Linked DNA regions of Homo sapiens: all the other regions are reported to be linked to region 1. Evidence: microRNA targets listed by miRTarBase, many of them from high-throughput screens and not tested one by one. Region 1 holds a microRNA gene; each other region holds the end of a gene's coding sequence.

The links. Region 1 holds the annotated microRNA hsa-miR-383-3p (ACAGCACUGCCUGGUCAGA, at 1,717-1,735, shown strand). A microRNA usually pairs through its seed, bases 2 to 8, with sites in the 3' UTR of a target mRNA and lowers its output. Matches are read on the target gene's strand: a 7mer-m8 pairs with bases 2 to 8, a 7mer-A1 pairs with bases 2 to 7 and ends in A, and an 8mer does both.
Region 2: the mRNA of SLC35A3 is a reported target of hsa-miR-383-3p. Seed matches in the 3' UTR shown: 7mer-m8 at 673-679.
Region 3: the mRNA of RNF24 is a reported target of hsa-miR-383-3p. Seed matches in the 3' UTR shown: 7mer-m8 at 1,229-1,235.
Region 4: miRTarBase lists ACADL as a target of hsa-miR-383-3p. The part of its 3' UTR that is shown has no 7-base or 8-base seed match.

Annotation. Positions count from the first base shown.
Region 1 is chr8:14,852,178-14,855,177 of GRCh38, reverse strand. It overlaps MIR383 (microRNA 383), which reads left to right and starts at 1,668; the gene lies at 1,668-1,740. All of the region lies in intron 1 of SGCZ (sarcoglycan zeta), which reads left to right.
Region 2 is chr1:100,022,101-100,025,347 of GRCh38, reverse strand. It overlaps SLC35A3 (solute carrier family 35 member A3), which reads right to left. Exons shown (of 8, transcript NM_012243.3): 8 at 1-2,962. The coding sequence ends at 2,872. The region is part of intron 1 of LOC124904230 (a long non-coding RNA gene); the gene reads left to right. Among named protein-coding and RNA genes, the nearest start is that of SLC71A1, 14 kb to the left of the region's middle.
Region 3 is chr20:3,931,241-3,934,487 of GRCh38, forward strand. RNF24 (ring finger protein 24) reads right to left here. Exons shown (of 6, transcript NM_001134337.3): 6 at 1-2,961. The coding sequence ends at 2,823. Among named protein-coding and RNA genes, the nearest start is that of MIR103B2, 15 kb to the left of the region's middle.
Region 4 is chr2:210,186,116-210,189,362 of GRCh38, forward strand. ACADL (acyl-CoA dehydrogenase long chain) reads right to left here. Exons shown (of 11, transcript NM_001608.4): 11 at 1,808-2,939. The coding sequence ends at 2,846. Among named protein-coding and RNA genes, the nearest start is that of KANSL1L, 16 kb to the left of the region's middle.

The DNA of each region.
Region 1 (3,000 bases):
AGGAGACTAAGGCATGAGAATCGCTTGAGCCCAGGAGGCAGAGGTTGCAGTGAGCCAAGATTGTGCCACTGTACTCCAGTTGGGTGACAGAGCAAGACTCCGTCTCTAAATAAATAAATAAATAAATAAAATAATGGAGATGCCTAGGAAGTTGCATCAAAGTTAGATCTTGAGGGAGGTGGGAGAGCATACCAGATAAAGTCGGGAGCGGGATTTCCCAAGAGAGGCCATAGCATGGACCTCTGCATGATTGTTCAGGCCCCTGTGGACATGCTGACATATCTCTGTGAATAGTGGCAGTGCAGCCTTTGATGTCTAGGGTAGCAGAGATTAAAGAGGGCCACTCTCTGCCGGGTTTATATGCCCTGGGAGACTGATCCCAATTGACCTACTCTCTCCTTTCCTCTCTATGAAAATAAAATGATAATAGCAAACTAATTCCTGCTGGTATTCCTGAAATAATCCAACAAAAGTGAAAAAAGAAATCAGAAGGACCAGTAAATCCTTCTTCTCTCTACTGTTTAACACCAAACTATATTACTGTATGTATTCAAAATATCTTATATTTGCAATAATCATATCTACGATGACTATTGAAAAATAATGAAAACCACTGGCTTCCTATTATGAAAACAATATTACACAATGTGAAATTTATTAATTTTATTAATCTAAGAAGTGCCTTAATATTTAGTTGATAACTTATTGACAGTATTTATTGTAAAAATAAATGTGTATATTTTTATCTTTTCTTTCTGCTTTAGATATGTTGTGGAACAATGTTGAGTCTAAATAAACTACAAATTATATATTTTTGATATGTCTATGTATTATCTTATTCAATGAATACAAATTAACTTTTTGTTTTGTGAATTGCGAATGAAATAGTAAAGTGAGTCATTTTGCATATAATGTTGTTAACACCAACTCTGTGTCAAAAGCCCAACATTTACAAGTCAAAAGTTACTGCATTTAAGATGATTACTAAATAGTGAAGATGAGGTAACACAAAAATCAAACTAATAACAATAATGTATTTCAATTTACATTTTGTGACTCTGTGCAAGGAGATATTGTAGCTTTAGACAGAGTATATAAAATTAGAATATATATACAAAAGGATATATATATATATATATATATATATATATATATAATATAATCACATAGAAACTGATGTCGTTACAAAATGAATGACTTAGGAGTAGGCAAATTTCGACCTTTGATATAGGCCTTGAAAGATCCTTGAAAGGTGTGTATTTTGTATTGGCAAGGAGGAAGGAAGGCTTAGGATAAGCTGTAGTCATGTGAAAGCATTGGATATTGGGACTAAATTGGTCTTCTGGTTCATCTGAAGAAAGAACAGAGAAAGGAAAATTCCAACAGTAGTTAGAAAAGCCTTGTTTATTTTTCTCCCTTCCTCTCTCCTTTCCCAAGCGTTTCACTAGGAAAGAAAATAGCTCTTCTATGGTACCCATGTAATACTAATTTCTCAGCGTTGTCATTCTAGGAACTGCCAATGATTGATGACAATCTATTTAGATTCAGTTCTTTAAAGGACAAAGCAAACCACTTCAGTGACTGAATTTTTTTTTAACCTGCAATGTGTATTGTTTGATTATGTTTGCATAATTTATCAAGAGACTTCAGAATCTCCCCGTCACCTGCTCCTCAGATCAGAAGGTGATTGTGGCTTTGGGTGGATATTAATCAGCCACAGCACTGCCTGGTCAGAAAGAGCAAGTGTCCTAGCCTTTACCTCATGAGACCTTGGGTATCCATCCAGCGTAGGTCCCAAGGGAACTGCATTTGGTGGACTGGAGTGGCCAGCATGCTTCAGGTGAGATGAAAAGTGCCATGTTTAACCTGTGTTTGGAAGCTTGTCTTTCTCATAAAATACCTAGTTGTTTCCTCACATGAGCATTTTGATCATTACCTCCTCTTCCCCACTCTTTAACATTTTTATACCATAAAGAGAAAATAACTTGGGATTCCATGCAGACATTTGAAATTCATGGGCAAAATCTTCAAACTGCAAATAGTACAAGTTTTATATGCATGCTTTAATTTGACTTTCTTCAAATATGAATGCTGCTATAATGCACACATGCAAAGGCCGCTATTGGAATATACTTTCTATGTATCCTCAGAAGCAGAGCTGGCCTCTGGCTGGTAAGTGTGGCTGCCTCATCAGCAGTATATATCTGATCATCTCAACAGTGTTTTCCATTCCTAGTAAAGGAAAAGCCCCATAGAAATAGTAACATATGTGTTTAGGAGCTAACGCTTCAGGAGAGTTTAGACGAGGAGATTCTGGGAACAATACCACAGGAATCCAGGAAAGACTTTGATGCAGAGAAAGGCTATTACTCCATGAAACACTACAGATGGGAGGTGAGCCAAAGAAAATTTTTTGTACTTTGCAATGTTTCCTTAATATGGTCCTGCTCCAACATAATGTAATTATACAAGCTGTGGTTGCCAAAAACTAAATATGAACAAAAATGGAAAAGACAAGATGTTTGTAGGGGAGACTATAGGCATCTGGCGTGCAGGGAAAAAAGTCAATAAATTGTTCAACTGAGGTGAAAATTAATTCTAGAATATTTTCAGGCAATTGTTGGTAGGGTGTTTGTTACTTTGGGCTGGTGTGTACTCGATGGCAACTTTTGTTGAATTAATTTTTGATTTTGATTAGACTTTTACTCAATCACATATAATAAGTACAGCTTCCTTTCTTGAGTTACAGTTTACTATTTCCTTAATATTTAGAAGCATAAGAATATTCTGTAGCCATATATCAACTGAGATATCTTTGAATATTTTTTGTCCTATAAATTATTTACAAAGTATTATGACTGTAGAATACATTTTACCTTGATGAACTATTTCTACCTTTCAGATGGTTCTTGGACTTGAACATAAGGCAATATAGTACATGCTCCAAATATTTACAGAAATTATTTTGTATCACTGAAAAAATATTGCGCTTGAGATTTT
Region 2 (3,247 bases), not on the chromosome of region 1:
ATTAAAATAGAAACAGACTAAACCTGATTAAATGTGAATGCACACTGCATTAATACATAAGTAACCAACCAATACTTCAATGTGAGCTAAACATAAATCATTATATTTCAGCTTGAATTCTGTGCATTTGCAGGATTTAGATTTTACTTAGCAGTAAGTAATAATGTAAGTCTAAATATTATTGCAGTCTAAAACTACCATGTTCAAAATGTGGTGAACTTAGTAAACAAATACTCTAAAGGGTGGTTACTGAAAATCATGTTGGGCATCCAGAAAGTTTGCTTGGTACCAATTTGGAATCACCACCAAAGTGATTTTAAAGATTTGGTAATTTTAAATGCTTTTAAACTTTGGATGGAATTGATGAGACCTGCAATCTGTAGACTATTACTGCAAAAGCAAGGTAACACTGCCAGTTCACGTTAGGCAAGGGTACCCAACAGTCTGTAACATAGTATTTTTGAGCCAATTCTGTTTAATAAAATCCATGAGAGCTATATAAAAATACTTATTTTTTACAGTTTTTATATCTATTAGAACAGTCTTTAAAAATATATACAGTATAGGCCGGGCGCAGTGGCTCACGCCTGCAATCCCAGCTACTCAGAGGCTGAGGCAGGAGAATCCCTTGAACCAGGGAGTGGGAGGTTGCAGTAAGCCGAGATCGCGCCACAGCACTCCAGCCTGGCGACAAAGTGAGACTCTGTCTCAAAAAAAAAAAAAAAGAAGTATTTTATTTTTTTCATTCATACTGTGGGTGTGTGTGTGTGTGTGTGTGTTTTCTTTTTTTTTTTTTTGAGACGGAGTCTCGCTCTGTCACCCAGGCTGGGGTGCAGTGGCACGATCTTGGCTCACTGCAACTTCCACCTGGTGTGTTCAAGAAATTCTCCTGCCTCAGCCTCCTGAGTAGCTGGGACTACAGGCGCGCACCACCATGCCCAGCTAATTTTTGTATTATTAGTAGAGATGGGATTTCACCATGCTGGCCAGGCTGGTCTCGAATTCCTGACCTTGTGATCCACCCGCCTCGGCCTCCCAAAGTGCTGGGATTACAGGCATGAGCCACTGTGCCCAGACAGTAAAATACTTCTTATACTCAGTAAGTAATTCTGTCTATAGTTAATAATTAAATTAAACCCATATTCAAATTATAGAAAGCATTTTTGCCCACCAAATCATCTTACCATTTCTAATATACTCTCTCTCTCTTGAATCAACTTATTAAATAACTCATGTAATCTGCATCCTCAGCTCCAGTGTTCATTAAAAAGGAAAAAAACCCACTATTTTAAAGCAAAATGGTGGCTCCTTCTCAGTAGCTTTTTTTTTTTTCTTTTTTTTGAGACAGACTCTCACTGTGTCGCCCAGGTTGGAGTGCAGTGGCGTGATCTCCACTTACTGCAACCTCTGCCTCCCGGGTTCAAGTGATTCTCCTGCCTCAGTCTCCCGAGTAGCTGGGACTACAGGTGCGTGCCACCACACCCAGCTAATTTTTGTATTTTTGGTAGAGACGGGGTTTCACCATGTTGGTCAGGATAGTCTCAATCTCTTGACCTTGTGATCCACCTGCCTCAGCCTCCCAAACTGCTAGGATTACAGGCGTGAGCCACTGCGCCAGGCCTTCTCAGCAGCTCTTGTGGGAACACAGAAAGGGAATTCAAAATTTGGCTACCTCTCCCACTCATGTGATCAGGGAAGAATAGGCTTATGAGAGACCTAAAAAAATCTTCCGAGCAGCCTTGGATTTAAAGTCATAGCGCTGTTTAAAATAAAGTAATATGGCAATCTGGAATGTCTCCAAGAAAAGTCATTTTGTTCTGTCACTGACATCTGTACTATTTGTTTGAATGTTGTTTTTGTAAACAGTTGTAGATTAAAGAAGTTTTTACAGATCAATGAGTAAAATGTTCATTTAATAACTTTCTAACTGTATACAGTATATGCTTGATAGTTCAAAATTCTCCAAATGTAGATATTATACAATAATTATTTTAAATTATTAAATGAGTATTTAATCCTTTTAAATTACATTTTGAAAATTTAATGGCAATTACACACAAATTTTAATTTAAAATAATATTAAGGACTTAATCTGATTTACAGAAATGAAATGCAATGAAGAGATTAAGGGCTAACCTCCATTACTATAAAATTCTCTGGCTACCATCTAGCACAGGAGCAACTGGATTGCTTTCAGCAGTCTTGAAGCACTAAAATATCTTAAAATTCATATGGAGAAATAGTATGTATCTCTACATTAAATTTAGATTTGATATTTATTCTCTGACAGATCAGACCCAGAATATTAATTTTTATGTAATTGAACCAAAAACATTTAGCAATCCTTCATTTAGTAATCTTTTGTATAAATATAAAAATCTCTGATAAGTGAAATGTTTTTTCAAATTATACTTCTATTTTTCACAGCTTTATAGGTAATTATAATTTTCAAACTTTAAATATTTCATGTGATTTGATATATCTGTACAGAAAGAGTAAGATAAAAACATTTAATAAGATTAAATCTAATTTGCAAAAATTGGTATCTGACATTTGTTGTGTGCTCTTGCAAAGAGTGCATAGGACATTTCTGCAGCAATCAAAAAGGTAAAATCTTTTTAAACTCAGATTTCAAGTTTCCTCTAATATTCCTTCTAATCCTAATCCCTGGAAATACTTTCAAGTTTTGATTTCTAGATGCAATGTGTTTTGTTACATATACACATGTCTTATCCTTAAACTTTTAAAAAACAGTATGATCAGATTCAGCATGATGATATCTTCTCAGACTCTGTAGAAGTCCTCTGTGCAAGATTAATGTCGAGATTCCTAGTGCCCCATCGTGAAAAACCAGTTAAAGATAGTATACAACTATGCTTTAGTGGGATTTCCTGCAGGTTTGGGATCATAACCATACAAAAAAGTAGCTGTTATTACAAGGATGGCTCCAAGGAAAAAGACACTGAATAAGATGAAGACAAAATAAAAAAGAGAAAATCAGATTAAAAGCAGAACAAGTTCCTTCTATTTCTTTACTATAAAAACAATTATAATGTGGGGAAAAATGTTCCAGTAACACGGCTAACAAATCTTGAGTACTTACTACATTCCAGGTATCTGGCTAAGTGCTTTATATGCATTATTTCATTGAGTTGTCACAGCAAATCTATGAAGATGTATTAGTATTCATTTTTTACACATGAGGAAACAGTTTTAAAGAATTTAAATAACTTGTCTAAAGTCCCAC
Region 3 (3,247 bases), not on the chromosome of region 1:
AGCCAGTGGTCCAAGAGCAGACCAGAATCCCCACGCAGCTACACAGTAACAAGTCCCAGCAACTCCTGAAGATAGATGCGGAAAGGGTGACTTTACCATGGGGTTCGAGTCTGAGCCAAGAGAGTTATAAAGGGGTCCCTAACTCATTCCTTTTTCAAAATAAATAAAAAAAGGACTGTCTTTCAAACAAAAACCCTGCGATTTTAATGAGAATTAAAGGAGGATGTAAATTAAAAGGCCTGTTTGTCTGTACAGCAATGCAGATGCGCAGGCCCATCCTGGTGGAGGACCCAGATGCAGGGAGCAAATATTCGGGTTGTGTTGCTAAGAGTCGCAGGAACTACTGCTAGTGATACTAGGCTTGCTGCAGGAGGATGTCACGCTGAGAAAGGGAGATGACTAGGAGCAGAAAAAGTACTCTCACTGTTCCAGCTTCCAGCCCAATCCTAGCAGAATGAATGCATTTTAAAACCAGTCCACATTCACATGTGCTGAGAAGGTTGTTAGTGGTCCCTCATCTGGGCAAAGCAGACCCAAGGTGGTGCTGAGTGCAGAGTGCAGAGCATTCTTGTGCTCTCCTCTCATGGCTGGAACTATCTGGGCTTTGCGCCCTGGTCCAGTGCTACGTATCAACCCCCTCAACATGCCTGTGGCTCTGACACGGGGGGATGAATTAACTTGCCTCTGTTCAAATATACAGACTTGGTGAGGCTGTCTTTTGTTAGTACTGATGCACAGGGACAGAAAAAGCCTGCAACTTTCAGTTGGGAGAATCCTATAAAAGCTGTGAGCAGCAATAATTTGCAGTATTGATCATAGGAAGGGAAAAAACATTCTCTTTCCTATTAGAGCCCCATAACAGAGGTGACATCTGTCCCAAGGCCATTCCATGGAAAATGGTGGCTGCTGGCAATTAGTGAGGCTAGTCCAGAAGCAAGCCTCCTTCTGATATTGGTCACTGAAAACAGCTCACTATAAACGGGGTGTTTTGTGGCATTCAACTCTGTTGTGCTACAAATAGAGAATGCAAAAAGACGGTGAAAGTAGGAGTGCATAAATAGTTTTTTTCATGGGTGCCAGACAGGCTAAGGCTTTCATATAAAAATATTCCTCACTTTCCTCGTCCTGTTTAGGAAGCAGTCCAGTTGGCATACCACGAATAGGTCACACATAGGAAATGGCCTATTTTGACCAACTGGATTTGTAATTTTCCAAACCGGATTCTGTCCAGCACTGTTCTACACTAATGGAAATTTTCCTCCTCATGCCCAGCCATCTGAACCAAGGACAGGTTCCTTCTCCTAAGAGGACAGAGGTTGGATTCCAGAAAAAAATCCTGGAGTCATGCCAAGAGCAGAGTAGCAAAGCTCCCTCCATCCATTCTCCATGTCACGCAGACTGTATTCCTAATGAAAAACTTCCCCCACTCACACCTGTGGGATGGAGTGGAGCAAAGCAGTTGACGAGGAATTGAGGCAGGCGCTCCTAAGATGGAGGGAGGCGGAGAGCAGGGCTGTGGAAAAGAATTTTCCATCTGACCTGCTACTTTCCATAGCTAATTTATACAATATTCACAAATCTTAATGGACTTTGAGTCATTTCTAGAAAAGTTGGACAGAAAGAGCCAAAGAGCAGCATGCGTTTCTCTCCTATAAAGACACTTTCACTTTCAGTTTCGGAAGTCCAAATACTGAGGCACACACCAACGGTGGACAGCCCTGCAGGAGCTTCCTGAAACTATCTACAATTCCAAGTGGATCACCAGCTTCAGAATTACACAGGGATCTTATTTGGGATAAAGTGTTAAAAAGTGAATGACAGGCTTTTTTTTTTTTTTTTTTTTTTTTCTGAAGTAGAAAGAGAGATAGGGCAAGAGAGAGAAGAGATGGAAGGAGGGGGAGAGGCCAAAGGGTCGGCATTCCCTTCATCCAGCCGGGCCAGAAGTATGGGCCATTCTCAAAAAGCCACTGCTCTTTGGAGCCACTCGAGAGGTTCACAGTGGCTCCCTTCTGAGGCAGTGGCAGTGGGCTCACAGCAGCTACACTGGAACCACAGTGCACATGTGGGGATGTGGGCAGCCTCCTGGATCACTCAGGGACAGTGTGGACTCAGGGCCCACTCCCTGCTGGGGCTCTGGACGGGCCTTACTGGTGCATAGGAGAGGGAAATGATAAGAGGAAATGGCTTCTGACTAGGCCTTTCCAAGCGCATCTCATGTTTTCAGCTTAGATGATTTGATAGCAGGTGTTGTAATCCTGAGGGGGAAATGGGTGACGAGGAACACTGCTACTCAAAGCCAAGATGGCCTTATCAAAGGCATACAACATGAGCCTTGTGGGCACTGCCTCACCAACCACTGGTGGCTGGTTGTGCTGGTTTTACTTGGCTCAAGGGCTGCTGGGAAGGTTTGCTGCGACAAAGGCCTGCATGGCCTACAGAGAAACCCATCCATCCGCAGGTGGGGGTGTGGCTTGAAAGACCTGCTCTTAGTTCCCTTCTTTACCCTCCTGCTTGACATGGAGATGAGGCTCCAGGAGAGAGAGTGTAATGGAGTTAGTAAGAGACCCTCATGAAGTTTCTTGAGGCAAACCCGCAGGCTCATCCACTCCTCTTCTCTCGGCAGGGGGTAGTGTCAAAGTGCTTTGGTTGTCACAAGACCCAGACACCTAGGTTCCCAGTTTGGCTGGCCCAAGAGTTCTTCATGAGGCAAAAGAAGTGGCAGCTGGTGTCCTAGGTAGAGAGCAGCCATACAGACACCACATGTGTTCCTCCTGGCTCCACACAGACGTCGTGTCCAGCAACAGTCTGATCCTTGCGGTAAGCTATACAATGTTCTCTGCCCCAGGAAGGGGCCCCTGAGGGGGTCCACGGTCCTGCTTACTGTGCAACTGGGCCAGCTGTAGAACTGGCATGTTGCACAGGGGACACACTTTACGAACCTCCAGCCACTTAATAAGGCACCTGCAGAAGGAGACACCACAGGGGGAAGATGTCAGTCCTATGCTCATGGCACGGCTGTTCTGCTGAACATCTCCATATCTGTCACCCAGACAACGTCTGCTGTATGGTCCAAGGAGCTCCCCTCCTAGGTGGTGAACGGATGTCACCCCCTGGAGAGAGGGAAGAGACAGAGAGAAGGAGTGGGGAGAGGCCAAGGGGTCAGCAATCCCCTCTTCCTTCCAGAGCCTCCCATCTTCCACGTGTGAAGCCACAGATAGTATGTGATACTCTCAGTTACCCATGACTT
Region 4 (3,247 bases), not on the chromosome of region 1:
ACTGGTACCAAAACAGATATATAGACCAATGGAACAGAACAGAGGCCTCAGAAATTACCCCACACATCTACTACCATATGATCTTTGACAAACCTGACAAAAACAAGCAATGGGGAAATGATTCCCTATTTAATAGTGTTGGGAAAACTGGCTAGCCATATGCAGAAAATTGAAACTGCACCCCTTCCTTATGACTTATACAAAAATTAACTCAAGATGGATTAAAGATGTAAATGTAAGATCTAAAAACCATAAAAACCCTAGAAGAAAACCTAGGCAATACCATTCAGGACATAGGCATGGGCCAAGACTTCATGACTAAAACACCAAAAGCAACTGCAACAAAGCCAAAATTGACAAATGGGATCTAATTAAGCTAAAGAGCTTCTGCACATCAAAAGAAACTATCATCAGCGTGAACAGGCAACCAACAGAATGGGAGAATATTTTTGCAATCTATCCATCTGATGAAGGGCTAATATCCAGAGTATACAAGGAATTTAAACAAATTTAGAAGATAAAAAACAACTCCAACAAAAAGTGGGTGAGGGAGATGAACAGACACTTCTCAAAAGAAGACATTTATGTGGCCAACAAACATATGAAAAAAAGCTCATCATCACTGGTCATTAGAGAAATGCAAATCTAAACCACAATAAGATACCATCTCACGCCAGTTAGAATACCAATCATTAAAACGTCAGAAAACAACAGATGCTGGAGAAGATGTTGAGAAATAGGAACGCTTTTACACTGTTGGTGGGGGTGTAAATTAGTTCAACCATTGTGGCGATTCCTCAAGGATCTAGAACCAGAAATACCATTTGACCCAGCAATCTCATTACTGGGTATATACCCAAAGGATTATAAATCACTCTACTATAAAGACACATGCACACGTATGTTTATTGCAGCACTGTTCACAATAGCAAAGACTTGGAACCAACACAAATGCCCATTAATGATAGACTGGATAAAGAAAATGTGGCACATATACACCATGGAATACTATGCAGCCATAAAAAGGATGCGTTCATGTTCTTTGTGGGGATATGGATGAAGCTGGAAACCATCATTCTCAGCAAACTAACACAGGAACAGAAAACCAAACACTGCATGTTCTCATTCATAAGTGAGAGTTGAAAAATGAGAACACATGGATACGGGGAAGGGAACATCACACACCAGGGCCTGTGGAGGGTAGGGGGGTAGGGGAGGGATAGCATTAGGAGAAAATACCCAATGTAGATGACGGGTTGATGGGTGCAGCAAACCACCATGGCATGTGTATACCTATGTAACAAACCTGCATGTTCTGCACATATATCCCAGAGCTTAAAGTATAATAAAAAGGCCGGGTGCAGTGGCTCACACCTGTAATCACAGCACTTTGGGAGGCCGAGGTGGGCAGAACACGAGGCCAAGAGTTCGAGACCAGCCTGACCAACGTGGCGAAACCCCATCTCTACTAAAAATACAAAAATTAGCCAGGTGTGGTGGTGCGTGCCTGTAATCCCAGCTACTCAGGAGGCTGAGACAGGAGAATTGCTTGAACCTGGGAGGCGGAGGTTGCTGTGAGCAGAGATCACGCCATTGCACTCCTTGAATGACAGAGCGAGACTCCATCTTAAAAAATAAAGTACAATAAAAAAAATTTTAAAAAGACTGGTATCAAAATATTTTTTCTTCCCTCTCCTCTCTCCAGTTGTAATGGTTGTATTAAAAAACAATGTTTAATATCAACAATACCAAATAAAATGTTTGTGTTCTAAGTTGAGTAAGAATACATCTGTTTCCATGTTAAAGCTACTTTAAATTAATGGTTTATTTTTTGTAATTACTTTTAAGTCTTAAATCAAATGTCATTTCCTCACTTTTGAATTTTAAATGCTTACTTTATTATTTACATTGCACTTATGCTTGAAATTATCTCTTTTACATATTTACTTCTTACCTTATTTTACTACTTATTTGTTTATTCACTTATTTTTTAGTGATCTTGCCAGTTTTGTTTGTCATCATTGTATTAACAGCCTGGTTTATAGAAGACATAAAGTAATTATTAAGTTAATAAATACATTAACTGTTGCAAAAGAAAAGCCATTGCTTTGATACCTATAAAATGTACCAATATCTTGAAATTAAAAATGATGGATTATTCTGTGTTCTCAGATGTCAGCAATTGACAGAACCAAGGCATTCCCTGGTCAGGGTTAGGCAAATACTTAGCTGAGTCCTAGGGGTTTCAAGGCAGTAAGGTATGATGGCTTCCAGCTTCAATGAAAGCAGTTCTCACTCAGCAGCGTTTCACAGAGATGTTCTGCATAAGCTTTTGTTTGAAGAAAGAGTTCCATTGCTTAAAAACGGGGTTGGAGTACAGTGGTAAAAACCACTGTTCTAGGGAATTTGGAGCAAATGGTAGCCGAAATGAGTTTACATGCTAAGTTATATTTACTTTTCCCTTTAAAAGTCAATGTGCTATCTTATTAATGTTTTTATACTATAGCGACATAAAATTATTTCTGCCTTGGTTTGAAGATTTGAATGATTTATGCTTTTTAGAATTTTAGAGATAAATGAAACACCTAGGCAAGATTCAGAAAACCGTTTACCTTTGGCTACATAAAAAACTGTAAGTTAAACCTTATATTGGAAAACTAGAATTTTGGCTTCAAAGATTTGTCCTTCCACTGTGTTAATCTTATATTTATATTTTATTTCCTTCTCTATAGAGAGAGCAGGTAAAAACATGTTTAGTGTTTCCTCGCTTTCCAAGTTACATTTTATCTTGAGCAGATTTAAAACGAGATTAGCTGTAATAGGACTCCAGGATGTGGGCAGATGTCTACTTGTCAAAGACAATCTCTCTTGCAATCAGCTCCTTCATTATTTCATTTGTACCACCATAGATTGGCTGAACTCTGGCATCCACATAAGCTCTGGATAAATCAGATGATTGAATGAATAAATAAAATATATTAGAAACTGTAAATTTTGTCTTACCAGGTAACTCATAAACTATTCAATTAGTGAAGTACAAACAATAAAAGTCCTTCATAAATTACTTATTTTTTCAATATGGCATTCATCCTAAATTGGAATAATAGTAAAAAAAACTATTAAGATGTTAATAATCTGTATAGCTTTGTATTAATTTGATTAAAGAGATTACAAATTCAAAATAAAAATAATGAGTATGTTTCATCTGATTTAATTTTGTAAAATTCAGCACATATGATAACACTCT